Linked DNA regions of Homo sapiens. The protein of the gene in region 7 purifies or fractionates together with the protein of the main gene of each other region. This does not show direct contact. Each region holds a gene or a part of one and is shown on either strand. Other genes may lie near its edges.

Region 1 (4,281 bases), on a different chromosome or scaffold from region 7:
GATTTCTACCAACCAGGTAAAACAGTGCTCCTTTGATGGGTGAGGCAGGAGCACTGGCTTTGGCTTGCTTTTATTTCCTTTTCCTTTCAACATAAAGATGTGTGCTTCCTGAATCCCAGCAGTACTATTATACAAAACAAGCAAGGGCGCCTGCGGTTGAGGATCCTTCATCTGAAGTGCTTGGGACCAGAAGTGTTTCAGATTTCAGATTTGTTGATATTTTTCTGTATTTGCATGTACACAGTGAGATCTCTTGAGCTGGGAACCCAAGTTGAAACACGAAATTCATTTATGTTTCATAGATACCTTATACACATAGCCTGGAGGTAATTTTATAGTATATTTTTAATAATTTTGCACATGGAACAAAGTTTTGACTGCATTTTGACTGTGACCATCGGTCATGTGGAATTTTCCACTTGTAGCATCGTGTCGGTGCCCACAATGTTTTGGATTCTGGAGCATTTCAGATTTTTGGATTAGGAATGTTCAACTTGTAGTAACAAATATCACCCGAGGTCTGAGTGTTAGCCCTGGAGATGGGTTATTCCCCAGAGTCTCACCCTTCCTCCCCTCTACATATGACCAACAAAGTTTGAGCTGATAGCAGTAAACTAGACAAGAATCTAAAATATCTGATTCTAAGAAATTATTTTAGTGACAGCTACAGATTCTATAACAAATACCCCCAAATTCAGAGGCACTTTTAGTAGTAAGAGAAGAGCCAGTCAGTACTGTGACTTTTTTTTAACGTATCTGAACTAAAGTTCAAAGTTCAAAGGACTGTGGTTAGGAAGTATAGCAGCATACCACTTAAAGAGATTAATCTGCACAGAGTAAGAGGAAAATGCATGTCACAATGGAAGAAATAAAAGTGACAACCTCAAAAAAATCGATCTTGGTCATCTGCCTCTCAGATGTTACAAAATAGCAATCAACAAATATTTGCAATAGTTTAAATTCTTAATTCACTTTCTAGTAGTTTCCTAGTAGACTCTTTCTACCCCTCTCTATAATATACTAGTGTTTTTGTTTTGAGTTTCAAAAAGGCAATATTCACCTATTTATATATATTCTCCGTGATTGTTTGAGGCATCAACAGATTTCTAGGTGAAGAAACCAAAATAAATGTTTTCAATTTATGTTAAAAGTTACATTTCTTGGTAAAGGATTTTTCCACACTGGTTTTTATTAAATCAAGCTGTATAACTAGCATCCTGTCCCTAGCCCAGCACCCTGCATGAGGTAGGTGTTCGATTCATGTTTGGCTCTGGTGAGGGGTATACGCTGTCGGAACCCACAGGGTATCACTGAGTCCTAACGAACGATGTAAGTCAAAGTGAACAAAATAGCAAGATTTGTAGAAAAGCTAGAAACTTGGCTATAATCAAGGATGGAGCAATGAGAAATGACCTGGAGAATGGGGGCAGGAGGTTCCTGCAAAGAAAGAAGACAGTAAAAGGCCAGGCAAAGAAGATTCGGTTTTTATAAGAGAAAGGCTGGGGAGGGACCCAAGGTGGTTGTTGAATGATAGATATCATCATCACAGAGTGACTTCTCTAAGAGTTCAAGTCCAAGGCAACCACTGAGAAGGGTATTTTCTTTCACACGCATCTCTTTTAAACCTCTGGTTGAGATTTAAATCATTTTTTATATATATGCAATTTTTAGGAAAAGGAACCTTTCCATTTTTTGCAGCGACCTCTGGTAGGAATAAACTCTCCTCTGGCGTGAAATGAACTCATACTTCCCTGGTACCTACGTATATTGGCAAATTAGCTGTTCCAGGGCGTGAGAGCTGGGAAAAGGGTTCAGCCACCCAGGAGAAATTGTTCTCTCCTCCCTAGCAGTGCTGCCATTGGAAAGAACCTGACTGATCAGGAGGCACTGGGCTTGAGCGGCTTTGAAAGCAAACAAACTTACTGTTGTCTGCAGATGGTAATTTCTTGGTTCTGTTAATTCTGTTGGGGAATGGGGTCCCTTTAGATTTCTATCAGGTGTTAACAAGAGGTAAATGATACGAAAGATCATCTTGGTTTCCCAGACTGAATGGTTTTAAAAGCCTTTTCTGGTGTAAAAGCATTTGAAGGGAAAAAAAATATTGTGGGAAAATGTAATGCCACCCTTTCTTAGCTAAAACAGCTTCATATAAGCAAGTTGTCCGTCAGGAATGAATACATCACAGTAGCATGGACGACAGCGGGTCTATTTGAGACCAGAGCTTGTCGGGGAGGCTGCAGTCCCCTTTGACACACAGCCAGCACTTTCTTCAGCAACTGTATAGAAAGCCTTTTCTGTCGCGGGTATTATTGATCTTCTTAAGGGAGCATAACTCATGCTCTCCACTTTGCATTTACAGGGTGAGCAAATCAGATAGACATTTTCGAAAAGGGCTTTCAAGTACTTCTAAATTAGGCTGGCCATTTAATTTACATATCTCAGATATAAAAGTCTCCATTGTTTGGAATGCATGTGTTCGTGCATAGAAGTTGTTAACCCTGGAATAAAAGATGCCTGTCATAGCTTACATGTTGAACGCTTCCATGGCAAATTACCTATTTTCAGGAGCTGGCAGTATTTTCAGATATTTTCCATCTTAATTAAATCTTATGTTGTTTAGTTTAAAACTGCATTATTCTGTTGTTTCCTGACTTTTTAATGATCGCCATTCTAACTGGTGTGAGATGACATCTCATTGTGGTTTTGATTCGCATTTCTCTAATGAACAGTGATGATGAGCTTTTTTCCATGTGTCTTTTGGCTGCATAAATGTCTTCTTTTGAGAAGTGTCTGTTCATATCCTTCGCCCACTTGTTGATGGGGTTGTTTTTTTCTTGTAAATTTGTTTGAGTTCTTTTTTTTTTTTTTAAGTTTTAGGGTACATGTGCACAACGTGCAGGTTTGTTACATATGTATACATGTGCCATGTTGGTGTGCTGCACCCATTAACTCGTCATTTAGCATTAGGTATATCTCCTAATGCTATCCCTCCCCCTTCCCCCCACCCCATGATAGGCCCCGGTGTGTGATGTTCCCCTTCCTGTGTCCATGTGTTCTCATTGATCAATTCCCACCTATGAGTGAGAACATGCGGTGTTTGGTTTTTTGTCCTTGTGATAGTTTGCTGAGAATGATGGTCTCCAGCTTCATCCATGTCCCTACAAAGGACATGAACTCATCATTTTTTATGGCTGCATAGTATTCCACGGTGTATATGTGCCACATTTTCTTAATCCAGTCTATCATTGTTGGACATTTGGGTTGGTTCCAAGTCTTTGCTATTGTCAATAGTGCTGCAATAAACATACGTGTGCATGTGACTTTATAGCAGCATGATTTATAATCCTTTGCGTATATACCCAGTAATGGAATGGCTGGGTCAAATGGTATTTCTAGTTCTAGATCCCTGAGGAATCGCCACACCCACTTCCACAATGGTTGAACTAGTTTACAGTCCCACCAACAGTGTAAAAGTATTCCTATTTCTCCACATCCTCTCCAGCACCTGTTGTCTCCTGACTTTTTAATGATCGCCATTCTAACTGGTGTGAGATGGTATCTCATTGTGGTTTTGATTTGCATTTCTCTGATGGCCAGTGATGATGAGCATTTTTTCATGTGTTTTTTGGCTGCATAAATATCTTCTTTTGAGAAGTGTCTGTTCATATCCTTCACCCACTTTTTGATGGGGTTGTTTTTTTCTTGTAAATTTGTTTGAGTTCATTGTAGATTCTGGATATTAGCCCTTTGTCAGATGAGTAGGTTGCAAAAATTTTCTCCCATTCTGTAGGTTGCCTAGTCACTCTGATGGTGGTTTATTTTGCTGTGCAGAAGCTCTTGAGTTTAATTAGATCCCATTTGTCAATTTTGGCTTTTGTTGCCATTGCTTTTGGTGTTTTAGACATGAAGTCCTTGCCTATGCCTATGTCCTGAATGGTATTGCCTAGGTTTTCTTCTAGGGTTTTTATGGTTTCAGGTCTAACATGTAAGTCTTTAATCCATCTTGAATTAATTTTTGTATAAGGTGTAAGGAAGGGATCCAGTTTCAGCTTTCTACATATGGCTAGCCAGTTTTCCCAGCACCATTTATTAAATAGGGAATCCTTTCCCCATTTCTTGTTTTTGTCAAGTTTGTCAAAGATCAGATAGTTGTAGATATGCAGCATTATTTCTGAGGGCTCTGTTCTGTTCCATTGGTCTATATCTCTGTTTTGGTACCACTACCATGCTGTTTTGGTTACTGTAGCCTTATAGTATAGTTTGAAGTCAGGTAGCGTGATG
Region 2 (4,281 bases), on a different chromosome or scaffold from region 7:
GAGGAGCAGAGAAATAAAAAGGTAATCTGAGAGATCAAGAATCTTACCTTGAGATATCAAGTATAGACCTAATAGGCACTTTTATTATTAACAAATCTAATTGTTATCATTTCCTCACCATCCAGCAGGTATGGGTGCTCATGAAAATGATCAAATCAGTTACTAGAAAAATAGAAAAGCTACATATTATCTGTAAGGAAACAAACAAAAAATCTCAATGCCAAGGCTGCACTTTAAACCAATCAAATGAGAATCTCTGAGGATGGGGCTCAGACGTCAGGGTTTTTTTTTTTCCTTAGTTTCCCACGTGATTTCAATGACAACCAAGGTTGAGAGGCTTGTAAAGAATGATCTTTCCAAACCGGGCTCAATGACACAACTCCTGCTTGAGACCAGGAGTTTGTAGACCAGCTAGGCAACATAGCGAGACTCCTGCCTTTTTTCTTTTAATCCAATAATAATAATAATAACGATCTTCCCCAGTTAATGTCAATATTCAATTTCCAATATGGAAATAAGCATCGAAAGCCTTCCTTAGAAAGGTTAGCCATGAGCCAGGTGTGGTGGTTCACGCCTGTAATCCCAGCATTTTGGAAGGTTGAGACAGGCGGATTGCTTGACTCCAGGAGTTTGAGACCAGCCTGGGCAACATGGTGAAACCCCATCTCTACTAAAAATACAAAAATTAGCCAGGCTTAGTGGTATGTGCGTGGAGTCCCAGCTACACGGGAGGCTGACGTAGGAGGATCGCTTGAGCCCGGGAGGCAGAGGTTGCACTGAGCCAAGATCACGCCACTGCACTCCAAACTGGGCAACAGAGCAAGAACTCGTCTCAAAAAAAAAAAAAAAAAAAATTAGCCATGGACCAGCAATTTCACCTCTCAGAATGTATCCAAGAAGACAACAACAGATATAAACAATGATTAATGTAGAAGGATGTTTATCAAAGTATTATTTATAAAAGCAAAATTTTAAAATTATAAAGAAACCCAAAAGAAGGACTCCTAACTGCTAGGGAGTGGAGGCACAGAATAAGGTGGAAATTTCACGTGTATCTTAAAGGATGAGAGGGAGTTTGCTTCAACAAAGATGGAAATGGCATCAGGAGGGCTCAGGACAGAGAGGAGCTTATATGCGCTTTAACCCAGACACTGGGGAGTCATGGTGTCTAGACAGTGCAAGCCAGAAACCAGAAAGAGGGAGGAAAAAAAAGAGAAAGACTCCTTACTCCTCCAGGACCAGGAGGCCCAATTAGAGCAGTTTGGCACCCCAAATGAGAACAGGGTAAGCTTCATGCAGTGCTTTTCAGACTTCACTATGTGTACAAATTGCCCAGATTTGTTAAAATGCAGATCCTGACTGGATAGGTCTGAGGCAGGACCTGCTTTTCTAATGAGCACCCAGGTGAGGCTCATGTTGCTGGTCCTCAACCACACTAAGCAGCGAGGGCCTGGAGCTAACACAAAGAAGCCATTCCCACACACTTCCCACCCCCAGAAAGGGTCTACAGGCTAATGGAGAACCAGAACATGCTATTTCGGGAGGGAAAACAGAACAAAAAACTGTACAGCTGCGACTGTGTCAAGTGACAAACCTGAAGTTCGGAGGCCAATGGTTAAGGGGTACAGGGAATCCCAAGAATGTTACAGGTTCTCTCATCCAACCCTGGTCCCAAAAAGCAAGGTGAGAAATCCTGAGCCTGGGTATTCAGCACACGCACAATGTGATTCCTCAAACATTTGATAAGTACTTCCCAGGCCAGGCACTGGAAATACCAAGAGCTCCCAGTGTAAAATCAGAGAGCTGGCCAGGCACGGTGGCTCATGCCTGTAATCCCAGCAGTTTGGGAGGCCGAGGAGGGCGAATCACCTGAGGTCAGGAGTTCAAAACCAGCCTTGACCAACATGGTGAAACCCTATCTCTACTAAAAATACAAAAATTAGCTGGGCGTCATGGCATCTGCCTGTAATCCCAACTACTAGGGAGACTGAGGCAGGAGAATCGCTTGAACCCAGGAGGCAGAGGTTGCAGTGAGCCGAGACCGCGCCATTGCACTCCAGCCTGGGCAACAAGAGGGAAACTCCATCTCAAAAAAAAAAAAAAAATCAGAGAGCTTATCAGCACGAAAATGGTCTCAAAACAAGACACCTCAGGGATAATTTGGGACTTTGAGGACAGTGGTAAGATAAGGCTAGATCAGACCTAAAGCCAAGAGCTTGGTTCAGCAGTGGGGAGTTCTCAGGAAATCACCAATCAATAAAGTAATTTAAGGCACAGGTCTAATTTTTGGAAACTGCAACCCTTGTGTTATAGGTGTGTAATAACACCTCACAGTGTGGACAAAGATTTAAATGACTGAAAATGGTAAACTTTCACATTACTTCCTAGTGCTTTTAGCTGAACAAATGAAAGTGAGAGACTTTTTTTGAGACAGGGTCCCACTTTGTCACCCAGAATGGAGTGCAGTGGCACAATCACGGCCCACTACAGCCTTGACCTCCTGGTTCAGGTGAACCTCCGACCTCAGCCTCCCAAGTAGCTGGGACTACAGGCGTGCACCACCACACAGGCTAATTTTTTGTAATCTTTTTATAAAGACAGGGTTTCGCCATGTTGCCCAGGCTGCTTTCAAACTCCTGGACTCAAATGACCCGCCCCAGCCTCCCAGAGGGCTGGGATTACAGGTGTGAACCACCGTGCCCAGCCAAGAGACTTTTTAACAGCTCCATACTTTCCTTCTTCAGGTAACTACAAAATGATCTAGCCAGTCCATTCCAGACCTGATTCCCTTTTCTTTAAAAGTTAGACTTTGATTCAGATACAGATCCAGATGCCCAGTTCTCTGCATCATTTCAGTAACTCATGTGACGTGGCAAAACGAGGCCTAAAGTGTGTGTTTATCTAAGAATGTATGCATGTCCCCAGAAATGGTGCCAGGCCCCACCTGTGAGCAGTCTTGCTGCTGACGGCCATGCCTACAGACAGCCAAGAATCTATGTAGTCTGGGCTATTTTCCTCAACAATGGTGCCCTATAAGGAATATGGCAACAGAAATGGATGGTAAGAATGCGTGTTTCTCCAGTAGCCCTCAAGAGAAAGGGTAACTATCTGGGACTGGTACAATAAACCCCATGGGAGGGGCAGTCTGTCTCTATAGAGGAGGTGGCTTTTTGGGGCAACCTACGTTGCTGATGCTCTCTTAAGGGATTACAAGTGGGGCAAGGGAGAAGGGGGAGGATGGGCCCCAAACAGAGCAATTGATACCTTTGCAGAGGGGTGAGGGATAGAGTGAGATCTATCAGGGGCACTTTTACTTTACTGGTATCATTTGAATTTTTTATAATGAGAATATATTCAAACATTACCTGCATAATTAAAAATAAATTTTAAAAAGCATGATCAAAACAACTCCACAAGCCCCTTTGCATGTATCCCATATTCACCAAACAAACCTGATTGCATTCGCCAAGACCTTCCAGCAGAAAGAAAATAAGTTCCAGATTCTAGTCCACTTAGAGATATGTTTCTTGGTAAAAATTAAAGCTGCACTGTGGCCAAGTGCAGTGGCTCAAGCCTGTAATCCCAGCACTTTGGAAGGCTGAGGTGGGAGAATTGCTTGCGCCCAGGAGTTCAAGACCAGTCTGGACAACGTTGTGAGACCCCATCTCAATTTTTTTTTTTAAAAAAAGCTGCATTGTGAGTTTGATCCCTCTGACCCCAAACACTCCTCCCAAACAGGTCCCTCTCTCACCCTGCCACCACAGGTGTCTTTCTGGATCTCACCTCTATACCCTCCCCTGCCCAAGGATAAAAATCTCCACAACTTAGCAGGGCATGTGTAGCCTTGCATGCTCCATAGGCTGGCCTCATCTCTTCCTGTTCCCCACAACAGTCACACTAAATCACAGTCTTGTCCTTCTCTGTAAGCTCACACCTCCTGGCTGACCATCCTGCTACTCCTCCTGGAATACTCTTTCCCTCTTCTCTGCTCTTGAAGTTCTGCCTTGGGACTTGGCAAGGCATCAGCCTCCACCCCTAGATGGTGTTCCCTGAGCCTGGCCCAAAGCTGAGAGCTAGGGGGTGTCCTTGCTCTGGGCTTCCATGTTGTACGGCGCTTACCTAGTATGAGAGGTTAACACTGTTAACCTCTCCACGGGTTAATCCTGTATCCTTAGCACCTGTCCCATAGCAAACACTCCATAAGTATCTGTTGCCAAAACTGAATGAAGTTTCGTACCCAAGGTCCTGATACACCACACTCAGAAAATTGAGTATCTGAAC
Region 3 (4,281 bases), on a different chromosome or scaffold from region 7:
CCTTGTTGGAGTGATTGAACTTGATCTATTGAGACGCAATCCAGGATCCCTAGAAACAAGCACGGTAGACTGTTACTGTGTGGCAGGTGTTTCAGTGACCTCCCGTCCTCAAGAGGTGTGTGTGACTTGACAATAAAAAAATAAGTGTCCTAAAAGAATTTACTGGCTGGGTGCGGTGGCTCACACTGGTAATCCCAACGCTTTGGGAGGCCGAGGTGGGTGGATCATTTAAGGTCAGGAGTTTGAGACCAGCCTGGCCAACATGGTGAAACCCCATCTCTACTAAAAATACAGAAATTAGCCGGGCATGGTGGCACATGCCTGTAATCCCAGCTACTTGGGAGGCTGAGGCAGGAGAATCGCTTGAACCCAGGAGGCGGAGGTTGCAGTGAGCCAAGATTGTGCCACTGCACTCCAACCTGGGAGATAGAGCGAGACTCCATCTCCAGAAATAAATAAATAAATAAATAAATAAATAAGGATTTACCACCAGAGAAAAGTACCTGGTCATATTTACTACAATCATCATATCATACTCAGTGTATGACTATATTAGTAAAAATGCACTTAACTACTAACCATTGATGTTTTAGGCTTTAGTGTATGAACATCCTGGACAAGAATTAGAGATTGAGCTCTTTGATGAAGACCCAGACAAGGATGACTTTTTAGGAAGGTAAATAAAGCCCATTGTGGTTATTGGAGGAGGGCATGGGGTCAGTCTTTTTGTTTAATAATCAAAAGTATGTTTTAAAATACATTTGTATACTTGTTGTCTATTCATTAAATGGTTCTTAGATATAACAATTGTTTCACCTTGGATTTCTTAAAACATTTTTATTCCTAAAAGTTTCACATTTAAGAGAAGTGAGTCTTCTAGATCTGTGCTGTCTATTACAGCAGGCACTAGCCTTAAGTTAATTAAAGTTAAATAAATTAAAAACTATCTGAGTGGCACTCTCTTTGTTTACAAGGCTTAAAGCTACATGCAGAACCTGCCGCCGTATTGAGTTCTAGTGGACAGTTCTATTCCAGATTGCAAAAATGGGTTTTTTAAGTTTTTTGAGTTGCTGGATTAATTTTTGTCAGGATATAGTAATTCACATTGGGAAAATAAATACTGGTTTGTTCACTTCAATTGAACAACTAGTATAGCTTTAAAAATAAACTTTTAAAATGGTTATTGTTTGACCACCATTTGTTAATATCAATTATTTCTGATTAATTTAACCTAATTAAGTTATTTGACTGAATTAAATTGTGGCAAAAAAGATGTAGGGATAGAATACATTGGAGAGGTTCATACCTCATCAAGAATGGCCCTTGCACGTTGTGGCCTGACTTGAGAGTTCATGAGACTTCCCAGGACAACTAGGAACAATTGAGAGATTTTAAGCCAGACAGGATAGATCAGGTGCTCATTCTAGGAAAATCACTGTGTGGATTGGATTGTCGGGGGCTGAGCTTAGAGACTGGCAGACCAAATAGGAGAGTGTGTCATAGACCAGGACAGAGAGAAGGCGGTGTAGACATAGATTGTGGGGGGCAGAAGAGGCTACAAGAAGAAGTGGGAGTATAATCATCCCATCTAGTTGTATCTGGCGTCTGGGGGTGGTGCCAATCTTGGAAGTACGGGAGGTTTAGGGGAACGGGAATGGGCCTCCTCTCAGATGCACCGAGTGAGGGCGTCCATCGGGCTCAATGCAGCATGGGTCTAGAGCCTGGGAGCAAGGGTGGGGGAACGTGAGGTTAGCGTTCACTGTGCGAGTGAGGAATCCACAGTAACGCACAACCCTACTGGAGTTGTGAGTGAACGTATAAAATAAGACGTTCCAAGAGGACGTGTAAAATAAGAGGGTTGAGATGCTTTCAAACATTTTTTGATGCATGTAACATTGTAGGGAAGATGAGTTGTTTTTGTTTTTGTTTTACAGCTCTAACCTCAGCTGGGCCAAACTCAGTATTCTGAGCTCACAGAAACTCCACCTCACTCTTCCTTACTCTCCTGACACTGGGGGTGAGCTGGAGGAAGCTTGTGGAAAAATAGTCTGTTCCTTGATAAATTATTAGCGTTTTGTTGCATTTCTGGAGTGCTTGTTCATAGACAAATGCTTAAGGTTGTTTCAGGAAGAAATGTGTTTTCTATGTTTTAAAGTTGTTTCAGTAAGAAATGTGTTTCTATGTTCTAAAGTTGTCGTATTGTTATTTTTATAGTCTTATGATTGACCTCATTGAAGTTGAAAAGGAGCGCCTTTTAGATGAAGTAAGTTTCCCTGGAGTGTGGGTCTGTTTACAATTGTTGACTGAGTCCCTGCCCTGTGCCAGAGGAGCCACGAACCACCCCTTCACCATCACACAGTGCCGGAATCCTAATTAGTATGGCATGAACAACATTTACTTAACATATACTAAGAATTTAGGCCTTTTAGAAATAGCAAATGAAAAATAAATTTAAGAGTCCATTCAGGTGCGTGTTGAGTCCCTACCATATGCTGGGAATCCTTACGGATATGAAGCATAAACTGACGTTATTGCAGACAAATATGCGATCCCCTGCAGGAGTAAGGGCAGGGCTGTGCGAGATGCCCCCTAGTGATGGAGATTTTCAGGTGTTTGGAGGGAATGGTGGAGAAGGCACAGTGCGGCCAGTGAGGCATCTCACGTGAGAGATGCCTGTAGAGACAGTGGGAACTCATGGCAAGGAGACTCGACTTCCACCATTTTATTGCTATCAGAATAAAAAGTATCAAAAAGGAAACATTTGTGGTGGCTTCTAAAAGAAGGGTAAGATTTAGATAAATGAAGCAAAATTAAACAAAAGTGTTGAATTCTGCTGCTTTCGTAATCACACGTTTCCTTCCCTTGAGTGTTCAGCATTCATTGGCTGTGACATCTCGTTTTCCTGGGTGTGCCAGGCACTGGATGGACAGTCCTGCCCATGGCTTCTATCATTTAGCATTTGAGGAGCATCTTTGATTAATTATTTTGTGACTTTTAAGCTGATACAACTGTATACTATTTTATTAGTATAGAGTGATGAATTAGAACAAACAGATTAAATCGTTTGATACTGAAATTCAGTATTTGGAATCAATGTTGTATTACCTCTTACCCTGTACATTCCGTTAAAGGCCATTTGGTGGAGCATGCTTGCCTACACCTGTGGTCCCAGCTGCTGGGGAGGCTGAGGCAGGAGGATCGCTTGAGCCCAGCCTGGGCAACACAGCAAGACCCCTATCTCAAAAAAAAGAAGTCTATTCATAGAAGACTTTACTGTCTCTAGGTAGTGCTAGAAAACATTTGAATTCTTATGTGTAAAGTGGGAATGATACTAGTACTTGCTTAGGGTTTCTGTCGGGGTCACGGGGTTGGTGTGTGTAAAGCACTTAGAATGGTCGCTCACACCTGTTGCTGCCATCGCCTCCAAACGTGAGGTCACTGGCATCCACATAGCGTAGAGCTGGATATGGTGAGGCTCAGCCTTCGCGTTACTGAGAACTGTTGATGCCTCGTGGTTAGTGAGCAGCATGGAACATTTGTAGAGACTGGGTTTAATTTGGATTTTTGATTCAGAAGAACTTTTGCTGAACGTAAACATTTTTTCTCTTCAGTGGTTCACTCTGGACGAGGTTCCCAAGGGGAAGCTACACTTGAGACTGGAGTGGCTCACGTTAATGCCAAATGCGTCAAACCTCGACAAGGTGCTGTTGAAGCATGTGCTCTTGAAAACTACCTAACCAACTACTCCTCATAACTGAGCTTGGTCTCTCAGTTGTGTTGCTACTTGATTTTTTAACAATTATAGCAGTAATTTTCATTATTGTGTAATAAGTCACTACAGTAGCATCAGGGATAAATTAAAGATAATGGAGTTTTTAAAATGAAATTTATAGGTCCTTCATACCTGTTTTATCAGATCTTCAGTTTTGAGCTTGTTAAAGTGCAGGGATTTGTAGAGCCAGAAATCACCTGAGTGCTTCATTTAATTGACTTATATATGGAATAGTAGTCTTGTTATTTAAAAGGCATTTATTGTTTTAGTTCTGTCTCTGTTGCATGGATTGGATGGTTTCTCACCTTTCTTATTTTTAGCGTAATCAACATGATACAATCAGATAGAAATAGTATCTAATCCTGTGGAAACATGGCTGCTAAGGGCTTTTTCCTTTCCTTTTAGGTGCTAACAGACATCAAAGCTGACAAAGACCAAGCCAACGATGGTCTTTCCTCTGCATTGCTGATCTTGTACTTGGATTCAGCAAGGAACCTTCCGGTAGGTAA
Region 4 (4,281 bases), on a different chromosome or scaffold from region 7:
CTATTCTTTTTTTTACCTAGCCTCTTATTTTCTCTTTTTAAGACAAGGTCTCACTCTGTCACCCTGGCTGGAGTGCAGTGGCATGATCATGGCTCACTGAAGTCTCAACCATCTAGGCTCAAGCAATCCTTCCACCTCAGCCTCCCAAGTAGCTGAGACTATAGACACACGCCACCATGCCTGGCTAATTTTTTGTATTTTTAGTAGAGATGATGTTAATTCTAACATCTGGGTCAATTCTGGATTGGTTTTAACTGATTGATTCACCTCCTCATTATAGGTCATTTTTCCCCCCATCCTTGCCTAGCTGCTAATTTATTATTACAGTCAAGAAATTGCTAATTTGATCTTGCTGGATATGTCTATATCCCTATACATATTCTTGAGCTTTGTTTGGGATGCAGATAAGTTACTTAGAAAAAGTTTGATATTTTTTTAAGGTTTTGTTTTTAAGATTTGTTATGCAGGACTAAAGCAATGTTCAGTTTGTGGCTAAGTATTCCCTGCTACTGAGTAAAAGTTCTCTGTTTTTCCATTGTTCAAGAAATTATAAGGCTTTTCTCAGTCTGGTTGCTGGGACGAGGTACTACTCCTGTCCCTGTGTGAGTACCAGACACTGTTACCGCTCATTTTGTCAGATGGCTCTTTCCCTGGCATCAGGTAGTTTCCTAACATATACACACTGATAAATACTCAGCTACATACTTGAAAGGAACCTTCTGTTATTTCTGCAGTTCTGCCTCTATGACGTTCTCTCCCCTCTGGTACACTGTCCCGTGAATTCTAGTTACCTTGGCCTGCCCAGCATCTCAACTTTATCTCCTCAACTCAAAAAGTCCACTAGGCTCTGCTTGAGTTTCTCCTCCCTGCATTAAGCCTGAAAATATTCTCAAGGAAATAAGCTGGATGACAGTAGGGCTCACCTTACTTACTTCCCTTCTCTCGGATATCTCTGCCCTTCATTGCCTGATATTCAATGACTTTTTTCATTATTTCATATATTTTGTCTATTTCTTGCTTGTTTCAAGTAAGAGACTAAATTTGTTACCTGTTCTCCACTTGACCAGAAGCAGAAGCCTTAATACTACATACTTTGAGTAAAACTTATGGTTTCAAAAACTGTTTCCATTTTGACCCACAAAACAGCAATTTTATACGTTTCAATCTAATATTATACTGCTTTCAAAGAATCTAAGAGACTTCTGATGAAAAAATATGTTTAATAACCCTACCTAAAAAAGTGAAATGAGGTTTATTTGATCTGCCTTATCCTTGGTGAACCTACTTAAGGCTTGCATTTATTTTCAAATTATTCACAAACCATCACAAACTCCTTACAAAGCATTTTGCTGGCACACCACTCATTTAATCTGGGCCCACAGTTCCATTTGTTGCAGCCAAAAATTTTATTTCCTGGAGCAGAGTCAAGACATTAATCCAGGTATACAAGCATCAATCAGTCCCTACATATAAATTCCTTCTACCCAGTTACACTTATTATATAATAACACTTAGCATAACAAAGTTTCTCTGTACGAGGAATTGGGCCATAATCTCAACTAGGCAGAAGGAATATGTCAGGCATCAAATTCCATATATTTAAACGTCACAAATGTAACATCTATTTTTCTAGAAGTTTCCAAAATAAAGAAGTAAATACACTTACAAGGCTTATAATTATGGATTAGAAGATTAGAAAGCAGAAAATCAAGATCAAGATAAACTTGTTAATCAATCTATAATGGCACTCTCTACCTGTACCCTTTTCTTCTAACAGTCAACCTTCAAACATCCAAATCTCATCCCCATCCAAAGATATGAATTTTTGGGTAACCCCCATCCAAAAAACTTTGATTTTCTTAGAACACGGTAAGTGATTTTATTAAGTAGATTTAAATATGATTCCAACCCATATCCTTACAAGCCAAAAACTGTGTTGAAATTTGAAATCTATTATTTTAAATTTGAATAGCCTCATTTAGAATTCATAATTCATTGAAGAAAAGAAATGAGATCCTTCTGGCCGGTGGCTCATGCCTGTAATCCCAGCACTTTGGGAGGCCAAGGTGGGCAGATAACCTGAGGTCAGGAGTTCGAGATCAGCCAGGCCAACATTGTGAAACCCCACCTCTACTAAAAATACAAAAATTAGCCAGGCATGGTGGCATGCACCTGTAATCCTAGCTACTCGGGAGGCTGAGGCAGGAGAACTTGAACCTGGGAGGCAGAGGTTTCAGTGAGCCAAGATTGTGCCACCGCACTCCAGCCTAGGCAACAGAGACTCTGTCTCAAAAAAAAAAAAAAAAACATTAAATTAAAAAAAAATGAGGTCCTTCCATAATTGTATGTGTATGTAAACTGTCATACATACACAAAAAACTGAGAACACACTTGCTGATTAGTGGTTGACACAGGCAGAATGTTATCATTGCATACCTTTTTATATCTACTCAATGAACCCATGAGAATGTAATTACTTATTCAAAAACAATTAAAATAAAATAAATGGATAAAGAAACTGGCCTAAACCACGATTAGAAATAAACTGCCATCATGAATAACTATAGATGCATCTATTTTACAGTTTTAAAAATTCGTAAGTAGATTATAATCTTATCAACTAAGACAGTGTCTCCCAAAATTTCTTAACAGAAATCACCTAGGTTACATATACCTACTGCGTACCCACAATAATTAAAAAAAAAAAAAAAAAGAAATCATCTGGGTTCTTCAAACCAGATTTTGGGGCCCAATCTAGGCCTACTGAATCAGGATTTCCCTGGAAGGCAATACTCTGTACAAAAGTGCCCCCAGGGAATTCTTACCAAAGTTGGGGAAACTTTTCTAACTACGGGGTAAGATTCAGGTCCAACAAGGGCAACAACATTACAACTAGACAATCTTGGATCCATTTTTTGGCTCTTCCAATTATCTATGTGATTTTGGATAAGTTACTTGGCCTCTTTGCGCCTCAGTTTCTTTTTTCTTTGAGACAAAGTCTCATTCTGTCACCCAGGCTGGAGTGCAATGATGCGATCTCGGCTCACTGCAACCTCCGCCTCCCAGGTTCAAGTGATTCTCCGGCCTCAGCCTCCCAAGTAGCTGGGATTACAGGCGCCCACCACCACACCTGGCTAATTTTTGTATTTTTGTAGAAACAGGGTTTCGCCATGTTGCCCAGGCTGGTTTCGAATTCCCAAGCTCAGGCAATCTGCCTGCCTTGGCCTCCCAAAGTGCTGGGATTACAAGCGTAAGACGCTGCACCCAGCCCTCAGTTTCCCTATATATAAAATGGAGATTCCACCTCCAGGGTTGTTATAAAGATTAATTTATGTAAAGGGTGCAGGACACGATCTTTCTTTTTAAAAGAAAATGAAGATATCTGGCATATAGACATCTATTAAATATTAGTTTCTTCTCCTCACATATCAAACTTACCCAGATGTTGGGGTATATGTCATTCTCATTAACAAAGTTACTGTTGAGGCACTATTTATTAATCATTAATTTTCTCAAGACATACACATACACCCAGATAATTTTCTTAGTCACTGAACTATGAACCACCTTAAAAAGCATTTAACTAGCTCAGTTTAGTTGGCTTATTCCTGACAAGAGTCACTCACTTGTCAAAGACTATGCCCAGTCTATCTCTAAAAATGTCACTTTATACACTTTAACAAAATGAAAAGAAAACCTACTATTTTTCCTTAATCCAAACTACAGCACCCCTAAATTAATTTCTCTCCCAAAAAATCCCCTAATAACTGTACCTCTGTTATGTTTCTCTCTCGTAATGAAGCCAACTCATACGGATCCACATAAAGTCCTGCAGGAATGTCCTGTTTAATTAAGAGACGGCAGGTGTGCAAGTCCTCAATGCTTTCCCCAAACTTCACTTTGATTAAAAGGTCTCTGTAAGACAAGTACATTGAAAGTAAATCTCTTCATTCAACTGTTAAATGAGATAACATAACACTGTATTCCTATTAGTGAAAACACTGTATTTCAAAATTCATTTTCCAAAAGTAGATTATAAGGTCAAATGAAATATTTATAACATGTCAGAATCATCCATTAGATCTTTCATAATTCATGTCATAAGCCACTATAGCATTATTGTAAAAATAGACAAAGATCAATGAAAAGGAATGGAATCCAATAACATTCACACAATTTTCAATAAAGGTACCAACGTAATTTAATGGGGAAAGGATAGTCTTTTCAACAAATGGCACTGAAACAACTGGATATTTACACAGAAAAAAACAGGCCAGAGGG
Region 5 (4,281 bases), on a different chromosome or scaffold from region 7:
CCTGGGTGCTCCTTTACTTGCTGGTAAACACGGGGTTTCTAGGAGCAAACCTGTAAGATGGGAATTCTTCGTCGGTCTTTAGAGGAGGTTACATAATCTTATGTGCAGAGCAGGGCATGTTGAAAGCCTTGTCTGGGCTATTTTCTCCTCTGGGGACTGTAGAAGATACTTCCTTGTTTAAAGCACACACCTTAATTTATTTATTTATTTTTGTTTTTAAATTGGAACTGGGTCCATTCTCTGATGGAAAGAATGACCTAGAAATCTTGAATCAGGGACTTCAGGCAGGAGCAGGGGGCGGGAAGAGTGCAGCACCCACAGGTCAGTTTTATTGCGTTCGAAACCAAGCTCGTGCCTCATTTGGCGTCTCTTCAGGTGTGGCCCTGCAGCCGAGGATGGACACACAGACATCAGTTAGCCCTCACATCCGGCGTTCAGCCGAGGATGGACACACAGACATCAGTTAGCCCTCACATCCGGCGTTCAGCCAGGGATGGACACACAGACATCAGTTAGCCCTCACATCTGGCGTTCAGCCGTCTGACTGGAAAAGCTTTTAGGCAGAAAGACTTCTTGTTTGTATAAGAAAGTTAAAGCATTTATATTTTTATTTATTGTTTTGAGATGGGGTCTCACTCTGTCGCCCAGGCTGGAGTGCAGTGGCCTGATCTTGGCTCACTGCAACCTCCACCTCCTGGGTTCAAGTGATTCTCTTACTTCAGCTTCCCGAGCAGCTGGGATCACAGGCATGTGCCACCATGCCTGGCTAATTTTTGTATTTTTAGTAGAGACGAGGTTTCACCATGTTGGCCAGGCTGGTCTTGAACTCCTGACCTCAGGTGATCCACCCGCCTTGGCCTCCCAAAGTGCTGGGATTGCAGGCGTGAGCCACCACACCCGACAGAAATTTAAGGCTTTTGAAATTGAGAATGCGGTTCTGGCTTTTAACGGGATATGCTTAATCATTTTAAAAAATGAATTAGTTGCAAATAAGTGTGCTGCACTCAGGCATCTTGCCAAAATTCTCCCCACTTTTCATCTCTTGAGGAAGGCTTGGCATAAGCACACTTTTCTGGATTTCCCAGTTGTGGATTTCTTCTGGGCAAAGGTTTAACCCTCCTGGCAGAGTGTTTTTGGCAATGTGAATTGTCTGTTGGAGGAACATCAGCCAGCACGCCTCCAGTCACAGTTGAGAGTCTGTCTTCTGTTTCTGATGAAGCTGCTCCTGGGTGGGGCTCTGGGCCAGCATCGCTCAGGTGCCCGGGCCACCCGAGCCTGTGGTGTAGCTTGAGCATGTGCTTCTTGAGAAAAGCCTCCTTTTCTGCTGCGCTCCTTGTGGGGCGTCTGTGGCTTCAGGGATCACATGTGTCTAACTGGACCCTTGAAGAGCTTTGCTCATTTGGGCCCTTGCTTGTCCGCTTTGTCTCTGTTCCCACAGAGTATAATTTGAGATAAATTGTTACCATGGGATTTCACTGTATTTCCTTGTCCTTGCTATGAGTAAGTTTTGTGTTAAAACAAAGTTAGATCAGTTAACAAAGTTGAGAGTGAACCGGAGTGCAAACGTGAACTGGCTCAGGCTGATGGACGGTCAGAGTGCACCACTGACTCTCTTTCCTTCTCTTTCAGGGTTGGTACATTGTGACCTATGCCTTGGGGATCTACCATCTAAATCTTTTCATAGCTTTTCTTTCTCCCAAAGTGGATCCTTCCTTAATGGAAGACTCAGGTAGGGTAGCGGCTGTGCACTGGGCTGTGTGGGCAGGTTGGGCCTTTCTTTTCTGATGGGATTGCCCAGTGTTCTCTGGAAACACCCGAGACTCTTCTCTTGGGGTTGAAATGTACTTGTAATGTTGGGTGATCAGGATATGTTTGTAGAATGACTCTTCAAACCCTCCTGACAGCCACGAAGTGGGTGTTCATTCTGTTTTCCCACTTTGCAGATGAGGAAACTGAGGCATACAGGGTTAGGTAACGTGTTCGAGGTCACATGGCACCACAGACAGTAGGGGTCTGAGGTGGACAGTCCGACTCCAGCCCCCGTCCCACCCCAGTCAGTGGTCCCTCTCAGAATCAGCGGAGGCAGCCATGACGAGGTTACCTTTTCCCGTAGCCAGAGGGTTCCACAGGCAGCTCACTGTGGTGCACAGAGACCGCCGGGACTCTAATGCCAGCATCGGGTCGGGTCAGGCTTTGGGCGGCCTTCTCTGGTTTCTGAGGAGCTGTGAGCTGAAGTGTTCCTGGTGCTTCGTGCTCCACTATTGGAAGACTTACGCAGCTCCTGGGCCTGCCTGGGCCAGGTAGGGGCCCTGAGTTCATGCCTGACTGGCCAGCCCCAGGCGAGGAACAAACAACTGCATTCCAGGACGTGGTGGCCATTGAGGGAAAACCCACACGCAGCTCCCTGCCAGGACCCTCCTCGTTCTGGGGGAACCTGCTGTCAGGGAGTAGGGTATGCTCTCACTGTGTGGCCAGAAGCCTGTGAGTCTTCTGTGTAGGATATGTGATGAAAAGATTGCTGGGAACACAGCCCCTCTCTGTTGTTGCTGTTTGGAGGAGACTAGAAAATAACAAAGAGCCCCTTTCCTGTAGGCCTCAGTTTTCCCATCTGTAAATGGGGAGCGGCACCCATCCCAGTGGGGGAGGCGGGGTGAGAGTGGGCTTGGCACAGCTGCTGGTGGGACAGGCCTGGCGCCCGGGTTCCACGGTCAGCGCATCCTCGGCCCCGCCCTGTTCTCTGCCGCTTGCTTTTTATGTTAATTTGCCTTTGTTTTCTTCTGTGCCTTTACGTGGTGCAGCTGACGTGTTCCTGGATGTTTATATGTGGTTGAATTCTTCGTGCATTGAAAACGTGTGGAAGTCTAAAAACATTCTGATAGCACCTTCTGAAAGCAGTGAATTGGATGTGTCAGTTGACCACAGACCCCCGTTTTCTCGTTTTCTCTGGTTAAATGACATGAATCTCGGTTTAGATTTGTGAGGCCTGCTAGTCCAAAGCCTTGAGGGGAAAAGGTAGAACTGTGATGGGAATGAAAAGAGGTGCCCTCCCTGATGGTTGCTCTGCCTTACAGATGACGGTCCTTCGCTACCCACCAAACAGAACGAGGAATTCCGCCCCTTCATTCGAAGGCTCCCAGAGTTTAAATTTTGGTGAGCTAATTCTTCACGGTATTTGAAGAGAATTGTGCTCAAGGGTGGCTGAGACTGAGACTACACTGATTTTTGTTCAAGTCACCTGAAAGATGACTGCTGTGCTGGGCTGGGCACGGGGAATCGCAGGGGCTCTCTGTAGAAGGCCACTCACTACCTTGCCGCATTCTCTTGGTTTCAAGTCAGCACCAGTGCCCTGGAGGTTGAGTCTGGGATGGAGTGCGCACCGGCTTCTGTGGTTGTGGCCTGGGGAGGGCAGGCCCTCTGTCCTCCCTCCTCCTCCCTCCTCCTCCCTTCCTCCCTCCTTCCTCCCTCCTTCCTCCCTCCTCCACCCTCCCTCCTCCCTCCTCCTTCCTCCCTCCTTCCTGCCGCCTCCTCCCTCCTTCCTGCCTCCTCCTCCCTCCTTCTCCCTCCTTCCTCCCTCCTCCTCCCTCCTTCCTCCCTCCTCCTCCCTCCTCCTCCCTCCTCCTCCCTCCTTCCTCCTTCCTCTCTCCCATCCCCAGCCTTGTGGCTCCTTTTGGCTGGCAGAGGGACTAGCCTTCTCCTGGAGTCATTTTTGAGAGGGGTTTGAGCCGAGGTGTCCGTGTCTGCACGGGTAGGCAGAGGTGGGTGGTGCAGCCGTCAGAGGGACGGGAGCGTGTGCATCCGTTTGTCTTGTCCCTCATACCCCACTCTGGGAGCACAGGAGGAACCCAAGTCTGTTAGATCAGTAAACTGAAGGAGCCTGCTGAGCTCGTGGGGCTCCACGCCTTGACTTTGCAGCCGCAGATGGAGTGTGGTACAGAAAGATCAGGGGCCCTGGAAGCCACCAGAAGCTTGGACTAGGAAGGGAGAGCTGAGCCTCCAGGGCCGTGGCATCTGTTGGCCATGTGCTGGGACGGGAGGGAGCACTGGTGGCCATGCCACAGTGACAAGGTGAAGGCCCTGGATGGTCCACAAGACACAGCCTGGGTTTCTCTCCAGATCGCAGGCCCAGCCAGCAGGCATGGGGCCCCCAGCCTCAGTACTGATGCTTTATACTTTGTGTAGTTTTAAGAAGAATTGTGTCTTTCAAGGGAGTAAGAGAAGGATGTTTCTGTGGTTAGGGCAGTACATGTCTGTGAGCTACATGCAAAGGGTCCTGCTGCTGCT
Region 6 (4,281 bases), on a different chromosome or scaffold from region 7:
TTGGGTCTCCAGTTTCCTGGATCCTATGTTGTTGTCCTTGAGTAATAGTTCACATAGGAGTAGAATTCTAGGTTGCAAAAAGTTTTCCTCAAAATTTTGAAGTTTTTCATCATTGTCTTCTAGAATCCAGCTTGCTGTTGAGAAATCTAAGCCTACTGTGATTTTTACTCCTGTTTTTTCTCTAAAAGCTTTCAAGAGCATCTTTTAAAAAATCTCAGATATTTTAAAGCTTCACAGTTATGAACTTGTTCTGGAAGTGGGGATGTCACTGCTTCCCCCAAATTATAACCATGTAGAGCAGCTGTGGGTACCTAGAGACATTCTGTGTTCTCTTCCCCTTTTTTTTGAAGGGTGATTATTGATGGTCCTACATGGGCCACTGTTCTAGGCCCTGGTAGTAGAACAATGAAGAGGACACACAATTCCTGCCCTTGGGAAGCTTACATTCTAGTGAGGGGAGACAGACAATACACACACACAAATGAATACTTCTAGGCGATGGGGAGAGTTACTAAGAAAATAAAGTACCCAGTGGAGGGCCTTGGCAGGGAAGCTGGGGAGCAGCTGCTTCAGATTGGCTGAGAGGGAAGATCTCCCCAGGAGGGGACATTTTACATGAGCCCTGAACAAGGACACCTGCAAACGTGCTCTAAGCAGAGGAAGTCAGTGCCACAGACAATTTAAACTGTGTTCAAGGATGAGTGAAGACCCCTGTGTTCCTGGAGCCAAAGGAGAATAGGGGAGAGTGGTGTGTAGGAGGGAGGCAGGAGCCAGCTTGTGCTGTAAGAGGGGGGGCATTCTGCCATGTTTGGAGAATGAACTGAGACTAGCAAGAGCAGCCATAGCAAGGTCACGTGGGAGGTGATTGCAGGGTCCAAGGAAGAGAGTCTAAGACAAGATGATCTCTTCCCTGCCTGGAATCTGCTGTCAGGAACAAGGTACCGGGAAGATGTGCACAGGAGGCCAGCCCTGCCAGGCCCAGGAGCAGTGGTGGATGCAACAGGGAAAGGTGGTGTCTGTTATTTGAGGGATAATGTAAGCAAGGTTCTCTTTCTTGCAGGGCCCAATGGCTGCAAAATCGCAACCCAACATTCCCAAAGCCAAGAGTCTAGATGGCGTCACCAATGACAGAACCGCATCTCAAGGGCAGTGGGGCCGTGCCTGGTAAGGATCTTGCCTGTTCTCCCAGCTAGAAAGTAAAGTGTGGTCTCAGAGCTTTCCAGCCTTTGGAATTGTATGGACCCAAAGGAATGAAGGACCTTTTTAAAAAAGATTTTTTTTTTTTTGTCAAGACTAATGAAAGGTAAACAGTTTTCCACTTTATAAAGTAAGGAATTATAAAAAGAAACTAGAAATCATGGTCAGTCAACAACTTAGAAAAAAAGATAAAGGCTTAAAGGGCAGCTGGGGCCTTCCCACCATCTGGGGGTATGACCTATTGTCACAGCTCCCATTTCGCCATAGAACCATGGGGACTTCGTGCAGGGTGAGTATCCTCTCCGACCTGGAACTGGGGAAACCACTGGCCTTGGTGGTTGTGAAAGACCTACCTCCGCTCATATTCTGAGCTCTGGGCCTTCCATGGGGGCCACAGATAGTGCCACCAGTTAATCAACTACAGTAGAGCAGGCATGTTGAGTGGCTTCCCTGGCCGCAAGGAGGGCCCGTGCTAGGAGCTAATGCCTTCTGTCATGGGGTACTGGTGGGTTTGAGCAACAGTTCTCCCACACAGAGCCTCTTAGGGTCCTGGTGGGGCCCAGGGCAGATGGGCCCCAGTGTGACTGCCTGCATCCGTCCTCGCAGGGAGGTGGACTGGTTTTCACTGGCGAGCGTCATCTTCCTACTGCTGTTCGCCCCCTTCATCGTCTACTACTTCATCATGGCTTGTGACCAGTACAGCTGCGCCCTGACTGGCCCTGTGGTGGACATCGTCACCGGACATGCTCGGCTCTCGGACATCTGGGCCAAGACTCCACCTATAACGAGGAAAGCCGCCCAGCTCTATACCTTGTGGGTCACCTTCCAGGTCAGCAGCCCCTGCCCTGGGGTTGGGACACAGCAGGTGGGGAGCGTGCCCTCCTGCTGGGGTAGTCCTTCCATTTGTCTGGGACATGGATCCTGGCTCAGGTTGACATCTGGGTTCCCGGGACCCAGCAGGGCATTCCCTGGACTCTGACATGTTCAGATTCATCCTCAGCTGTAAGGCAGGAGGCACCTGTCACATCAGCGTTTGATACACCTTCACGGCATGCCTGCATGCAGTTGCTGGGCACGCCCAGCTCTGCAGGGACAAGCTGAGGATAGGAGCAAAACCCCGTGGGAGGGCAGTGCTGTCCTGAGGAAGCCCCATTGTCAGCAGGAGTCACGCCTTGCACCAGGTCTGGAAAGGAGCATCTCAGTCCCCAAAGGGACTCTCTCAGTCATGAGATGCCACTCAGAGAAGCGAGGGCCATGTTTCCCCACAGGCAGTCGAGGCAGGTCCAGGACGTCCTCAGCTCCATGGTGTCCCCACTGGCCTCCCAGTCCAGAGGGAGTTCCAGGAAGGGGTTGTTGTAAACCTGGTGCACACATGGGTGGTGCTGATTGCCTGAACCCAGGAAAAGGTTTCCAGGGAAACGGTGCTAGAAAGAGACAGGCCTGGGTTTTCCTTCCTGGGCGGGAGGAAGGCTCAGATCATGATTAGCTGTTTCTCCCCAGGGTCCAAGCTTCTGGGCTCCAGAATACTTCTCAGTTCAGATCTCTTGGTCCCTTTGAGTGAAAAATGACAGGGGCAGTGTGAATCACAAATAGCCACAAAGCAGGAACCCCCACCTGTCCATCAGTAGATGAATGGACCCACAGAACAGAACACTGTGCCCACTGTGGGACACTATTTGGCAGCGGAAGGGAATGAAGCTCTGATGCCAGTAGGCGGATGACCCTTGAAGACACTGCTGAGCGAGAGAAGCCAGTCACAGAGGCTGCATACTGTGTGGTTCCCTTTATATGCAATACCCAGTACAGGCAAATCCACAGAGGCAGAAAGCTCAGTGGCAGCCAGGGGCGGCAGGGACAGGGAATTCAGAGTGACCGGAGATTGGAACAACATTTTCTTCTGTGGTGATGAAAAGTTCTGGAATTAGCAGTGATAGGTGTACAACCAACCATGTAAATGCGCTAAATGCCGCTGAATTGTGCACTTTAAAAGGGTGAATTTTAGCCGGGTGTGGTGGTGCACACCTGTAATCCCAGCTACTTGGGAGGCTGAGGTGGAAGGATCACTTGAGCTCAGGAGGACAACGCTGCGGTGAGCTATGATTGCACCACTACACTCCAGCCTGGGTGGTAGAACAAGACCTCATCTCAAAGATAGATTTATATATATATATAAAAAGTTGAATTTTATGGGATTCTCCATTTTAAAAAGGTGACTGGGAGGGACCTGTGCGCTCTCCTGAGGGGCGAATGGAGCCCTGGGGGAGAACGCCTTGGCACCTTCCCTGGTTGATGAGTTTATTGTCTCAGAACCCCCTTCAAAACCCACAGCCCAGCAGTTTGAGCTTCCAGGAGCCATAAGTGCTTCAGGAAGAAAAAGACTATGATTGTGATTCTCATGTTCCTGCTATGCGTCCCCCTTTGCAGGTGCCCTCCAGGCGGGGGGTGATCAGGCTGCTTGTGTGTTTCAGGTGCTTCTGTACACGTCTCTCCCTGACTTCTGCCATAAGTTTCTACCCGGCTACGTAGGAGGCATCCAGGAGGGGGCCGTGACTCCTGCAGGTAGCCTCCTCCCTTCCACCCTCCCCAGGCTCCCGTTCTCATCCCTTTCTCTCAGGGGCCAGTCCTCCCCAGCGCTGCTTTGTCCCTAAGACTTGTCACAGGATAGAAATCCATTTTGCTTGGATTTTTCACAGCACCAGGCCTCAAAACCATTGAGGGCAGCTGGGGCCATCCCACACCCAGGTTAGAAATCACTTTCCTGGGTAAGGAGGGAATGGATGGCCCAGCTCCTTCCCAGCCCCATAGCAGGGGATGCACTCGGCCCATGAAGCTTCCTGCAGAGACCACCATGCAGAGACCACCATTCCTCGGGGCTGTCCGTGGGAGACCTTGTCTGTTCATTCCTTGCCATCATTGAGAACCCACGAGGAGCCTGGCTTTGTGCCTCTCACGTGGGTGCAGACTGGAACCGCATCCCAACTCTGCCCCCAGAAGCTCCCTGTTTTGAGGGGTGGATGGGCTGAGGTGCTCCCCAACAATTACAGAGGGGGCCAGGCATACCACAGGGGCATCCTCACTTGCTTC
Region 7 (4,281 bases):
CCTGCCCACGCCTTTCTAACTGACTTGGGCTTGGGCTGTTGCCTGGGTTAAAAGGACCAGTAAATAAACACAGACTCTTCCTTAATAAAAAGAATCCCTGTTTCTCTAGAGCCTTGGAGGAGCGTGGGGCACTTGGTAGACCTGGTCGCTTTGATTCCCTCAATACCCCTCAGAGGTGAGGGGCTGCGGGATGGGTGCTCCCCTCTACAGCCTGGGGCACCTCCTCTTGGCAATTCCTGGGAATAAAGGCAGAGGTGGCCTCAGGGCGATTGTTTGTGTGTATGAGAGGGAGGAGAAGGCAAACATAGATTGGAGATACACCCTGACAGAAGCGGATTTGTCTCCTGGCAGTTGACAAGCAGGCCAAGGGACAGAGAGTAGAACTAAGAATGCCCCACGTCACTTTTCTGGAGGTCTAGGGAGCTTTGGGCTCTCTAGGAGGGCAGGGAGAAGGGAAGGGCAGTGACCTGCTGAGAGGGGCAGCCACTGCTGGGCCTCCCTTTTGAGGAGCCCGTCATTTGGTCACCTTGGGGGTCATCCGGAGGTGACTGCCAGCCAGGTGAGAACTGGTCTGGTGATCCCTTCTGGCACCAGGGCCCCCTAGTTTTTCTCAGGACAGAGATACAACAGAGAGAAGAGGAGCTGGGGCTCCCTCGAAAGCTCACACTTGCCCCTGGTGCCAATCGTTGTTGTCATCTGGCCTTGTTCAGAGGCCCCACCTTCTCTTTTCCTCCCAATCAGCTGCCCAGAGCTGCTGGCTCCCCTGTTTACTCTGAGCTGATCGATCACCTTAGCACACAGCTGGCTAGGAGAGAACCATGCAGTCACTTCGGCCACACCTGCCCGTTGACCCTTGCTACCTCGGCAGGCTTTGATCCCTTCTGACCTGGAGGCCAGAGGCTAGGCTGAGGTCACTCAGCAGACATCAAGGACCTGGGCAGATGGGCCGGCTGGGATGGTGGCGAGCTGTACAGATAAAAAGGGACATGAAAATGAAAAGCCCGAGCCTGAGTTTTCATCACGGTTCCACTCCTGAGTGGTCTTGGGTGAATCACTTCATCTGCCAAGGCCTGGATTTCCTCATCTGCAAACTCAGAAAACTAAGGTTTGCTCTTACAGTTACGAGAACGAACTGGAACTTTAGGTGTAAATGCCATGGAGCACTTGGGAAGAACAACAATATGCTGACAGCGGAGATCGGGATGGGAAAGCAGGGCTGGCGGGAGCATGTCGGGTTTTACAGCTAATTTCTTCTCTTCCCACCAGGCTTTGGCCCTCGTCATCCTGCCCACCCAGCGGGGCTTCCCAACCCACCACACAGCCATGGACGGGAAGGTGGCAGTGCAAGAGTGTGGGCCTCCTGCAGTCTCCTGGGTCCCCGAGGAGGGAGAGAAGTTGGACCAGGAAGACGAGGACCAGGTGAAGGATCGGGGCCAATGGACCAACAAGATGGAGTTTGTGCTGTCAGTGGCCGGGGAGATCATTGGGCTGGGCAATGTCTGGAGGTTTCCCTATCTCTGCTACAAAAACGGAGGTGGTGAGTTCACTTTGAGGTAGGCATGGTGGGGAGAGCTGTGTGCTGGCAGCTGGGCAGTGCCTACCTGGGCCCTCCTTCCTGGGCAGTGTGGTTTATAAAAGGAGGGCTATTTTGGAATTGGAGGACTTGAGTTTGAGTTCCAGCTCCACTACTAGCCTCAGCGTCCCTCTCTGTGAAATGGGGACAATACCTCCCAGGGTGACGGTGAAGATGAAACTGGGCAATGGGCAGGACCAAGAAATTCTAGTTTTTAACAAGCTCCTTCATGACTATGTAAAGGTCAATCATTGATAGAATTCAGTCATTCATTCAGTGAACATGATTGCAGGCCTGTCACGTGCCAGACCCGGCGCTAGGTGCAAAACAGAACACATTCCGTGTGCCACCCTCCGTGGGAGGATTCTGAGGAGTTGTACTGTGTCTGCGGCAGGTTGCGGACAAACGGTTCCGCGTGGTCTATGTCAAATGGTGATGAGTGGAGGGGTGAGACGTGACGCAGGGAGGAGGGATAGGGAATGCTAGGCGTGCAGAGGGGAAGGTGACATTTCAGCAGACTTGAAGGAAGTGAAGGCATGAGTGTCGTGGATGTATCCTGGATGGAGAACACTCTGACACAGGGAACGGCAGGTGCCAAGGTCCTGGGGGTGGAAGCTGCAGGCCTGTCTGAGGAGCAGTGAGGAGGCAGGTGTGGCTGGGATGGAATGAGAGAGGCAGAGAATAACCGGGTGAGGGCAGAGAGGTCACAGGGATCACTCAGGCTGAGGTTGGACAGGTCACAGGGGTCACTCAGGCTCTGTTCTGACTGAGATGGGAGCCACCGAAGCAATTTTGGTTGGAGAAATACCTTGCCTTTGAGTTTTTTTCAAGTTAGAGAAACATGATTTTATTATTTTTCAGCACTGGGTGTAAAAATTAGCAGTGGTGGGGAGGGGCCAGTTCCTTATTCTAAGTGCACAATTCAGTGGTTTTTAGTATAGTCACAGAATTGTGCAGCCATCACCACAACCACTTTTGGAACATTTTCATCATCCCCGAAAGAAATCCTATATTCATTCGCAGTCGCTCCTCATTCCCTCTCCCTGCCAGCCCTTGGCAACGCTTATGTGCTGCCCATCTCGATGGATCCCTATTTGGGCTATTTCACAGGAATACAATCGTTCAATGCGCCGTCCTTTGTGAGTGGTTAGATTCATTTTTTTTGGCCTTTTGAAATCACTTTTATTTTTCTTGTGGAAACAGTATATGTTTATTGCAAATATTAGAAACATTTCAGGAAGGTAGAAAGGAATACTCACATTTAGAGATAATTTGTTGAGAAAATCCTCCTAAACACTATTTATATTAAATCTGACCAATATTTACGGAGGGTCTACTGTGTATCTTGCTATGTGTTTTAAACCTTATAGTTGCGATCACAAGCTGCTTGAACTGACAACTCCTAAGAAATAGCGGTAGGCTTTCTTGGGCTGGCTCAGTCTCTGGTGCTGAGGCTGACCCTGGGCCAGAAAGTCAGGGGAGGCAAGATGAAGGGGCAGGGTGGTGGTTTCCTTCTTCATCCAGGGCCACCATCTCATGGCATATAGGATGTTAGGGCTGGAGATGGAGGTGCTCAGACTAAGCCCTCCTTTAGTGGAGGAGGATTTGCCCAGGACTGCAGAGGGCCTTGGAACCATTTCTGCGTCACGGCACACTCCTCACCCAGCCATCTGGGAGGGAGACAGCACTAGGGCCTGGGAGGCAGGGCCGCGGTGTCGGGCGCCCACCCTGCCTCTGTCCTGTCATGCTGGCTGCTGCTGTGGCTGTGGCCTCTGTCCTGGCCGTGGGGTGGGGTGGAGAGAGAGAGATGAGTACCCGCAGTAACATTATGGAATATCGGATCCGGTTACCTCCTTCCCAGCCTAACTCTTGGGAAAGACACCCTTTCTTTCATCTTTAACATGAGGGGGCCAAATGAGGTTGGGGTCCCCTTCTGGAGTCACTGGTCCTTGGGGGTCTAGAAATGTAGTAAAGAAGGGCCAGGAATTCATTTTCTCATTTCCAACAACCTAATGATGGATGGATGTGGAAACAGGATGTCACAGACTAGTCCAAATGTCTTTTATTTTTTTGCTTTAGACTGAACTGTACTAACTCAGAGTGATAATAAAGTTTATATCAAGCTGACCATAAGGCCTGATTGGCACTTAAATATAATTTTATTAATATATGCAGGGAAATTTATTGATTATTAATTAGTAAACATAGTTCTGTAGAGAAAAATCTTTCAAAAGAAACAAAAAAGAGTAATAAAACTATTGGTCTAATGAGGGCTTTGGTTATGAAAAAGAGGGGAGCCCCTGAACTAGAAATCACTCACCTCAAAAGAGAACTTTAGGAAGTTCCCATTATCCGGGTTGTGAGTGGTTCAGGAAAGAGCATGCAGCAGAGGTAAGGCACAATGTAGAGGTGTTGACACCAACCCCAGGCTTCAGGGCACCGTGTCGGTAAAGGTCCCTGTGGGACACACCATGTTGGTAAAGGTCCCTGTGCGACATCGCTGGGCCGCCCGTGCCCATAGCCTGGGCTGACACGAAGGAGACATGAAGCAGGGTAACCTTCCAAAGCAAGGCACTGATGAGGGAATTTGAGGGGAGGGTGTAGCAGTGTCAGCGTTCTAAAAACCCAAGGGTAGAGGACGCCCTAACGCGCTCCAGAAACAACCTCTTCATCTGCCCCTCGAAGGTCCAGACTTAGTGCCACCCTTT

The links.
Region 1: the proteins of SLC6A12 (region 7) and JPH1 purify together in Homo sapiens (affinity purification with mass spectrometry; one large-scale study listed by BioGRID and IntAct). This does not show direct contact.
Region 2: the proteins of SLC6A12 (region 7) and PARP16 purify together in Homo sapiens (affinity purification with mass spectrometry; one large-scale study listed by BioGRID and IntAct). This does not show direct contact.
Region 3: the proteins of SLC6A12 (region 7) and ESYT2 purify together in Homo sapiens (affinity purification with mass spectrometry; one large-scale study listed by BioGRID and IntAct). This does not show direct contact.
Region 4: the proteins of SLC6A12 (region 7) and PIGX purify together in Homo sapiens (affinity purification with mass spectrometry; one large-scale study listed by BioGRID and IntAct). This does not show direct contact.
Region 5: the proteins of SLC6A12 (region 7) and RER1 purify together in Homo sapiens (affinity purification with mass spectrometry; one large-scale study listed by BioGRID and IntAct). This does not show direct contact.
Region 6: the proteins of SLC6A12 (region 7) and DHCR7 purify together in Homo sapiens (affinity purification with mass spectrometry; one large-scale study listed by BioGRID and IntAct). This does not show direct contact.

Annotation. Positions count from the first base shown.
Region 1 is NC_000008.11:74,255,120-74,259,400, reverse strand, and holds part of JPH1 (junctophilin-1), read left to right. Parts: coding exon 1-16; intron 17-4,281. UniProt on the Homo sapiens protein: Junctophilins contribute to the formation of junctional membrane complexes (JMCs) which link the plasma membrane with the endoplasmic or sarcoplasmic reticulum in excitable cells.
Region 2 is NC_000015.10:65,279,603-65,283,883, forward strand, and holds part of PARP16 (protein mono-ADP-ribosyltransferase PARP16), read right to left. Parts: intron 1-4,281. UniProt on the Homo sapiens protein: Intracellular mono-ADP-ribosyltransferase that plays a role in different processes, such as protein translation and unfolded protein response (UPR), through the mono-ADP-ribosylation of proteins involved in those processes.
Region 3 is NC_000007.14:158,759,478-158,763,758, reverse strand, and holds part of ESYT2 (extended synaptotagmin-2), read left to right. Parts: intron 1-593; coding exon 594-676; intron 677-2,214; coding exon 2,215-2,263; intron 2,264-3,611; coding exon 3,612-3,701; intron 3,702-4,177; coding exon 4,178-4,273; intron 4,274-4,281. UniProt on the Homo sapiens protein: Tethers the endoplasmic reticulum to the cell membrane and promotes the formation of appositions between the endoplasmic reticulum and the cell membrane. Binds glycerophospholipids in a barrel-like domain and may play a role in cellular lipid transport.
Region 4 is NC_000003.12:196,722,049-196,726,329, reverse strand, and holds part of PIGX (GPI alpha-1,4-mannosyltransferase I, stabilizing subunit isoform 2 precursor), read right to left. Parts: intron 3,916-4,281; coding exon 3,774-3,915; intron 1-3,773. UniProt on the Homo sapiens protein: Stabilizing subunit of the glycosylphosphatidylinositol-mannosyltransferase I complex which catalyzes the transfer of the first mannose, via an alpha-1,4 bond from a dolichol-phosphate-mannose (Dol-P-Man) to the glucosaminyl acyl phosphatidylinositol (GlcN-(acyl)PI) intermediate to generate alpha-D-Man-(1->4)-alpha-D-GlcN-(1->6)-(1-radyl,2-acyl-sn-glycero-3-phospho)-2-acyl-inositol and participates in the sixth step of the glycosylphosphatidylinositol-anchor biosynthesis.
Region 5 is NC_000001.11:2,397,786-2,402,066, forward strand, and holds part of RER1 (protein RER1), read left to right. Parts: intron 1-1,629; coding exon 1,630-1,729; intron 1,730-3,071; coding exon 3,072-3,150; intron 3,151-4,281. UniProt on the Homo sapiens protein: Involved in the retrieval of endoplasmic reticulum membrane proteins from the early Golgi compartment.
Region 6 is NC_000011.10:71,441,738-71,446,018, reverse strand, and holds part of DHCR7 (7-dehydrocholesterol reductase), read left to right. Parts: intron 1-1,060; 5' UTR 1,061-1,066; coding exon 1,067-1,164; intron 1,165-1,732; exon of another isoform or gene 1,733-1,803; coding exon 1,804-2,026; coding exon of another isoform or gene 2,027-2,062; intron 2,063-3,665; coding exon 3,666-3,756; intron 3,757-4,281. UniProt on the Homo sapiens protein: Oxidoreductase that catalyzes the last step of the cholesterol synthesis pathway, which transforms cholesta-5,7-dien-3beta-ol (7-dehydrocholesterol,7-DHC) into cholesterol by reducing the C7-C8 double bond of its sterol core.
Region 7 is NC_000012.12:207,029-211,309, reverse strand, and holds part of SLC6A12 (sodium- and chloride-dependent betaine transporter), read left to right. Parts: intron 1-741; exon of another isoform or gene 742-1,105; intron 1,106-1,266; 5' UTR 1,267-1,323; coding exon 1,324-1,537; exon of another isoform or gene 1,538-1,553; intron 1,554-4,281. UniProt on the Homo sapiens protein: Transporter that mediates cellular uptake of betaine and GABA in a sodium- and chloride-dependent process.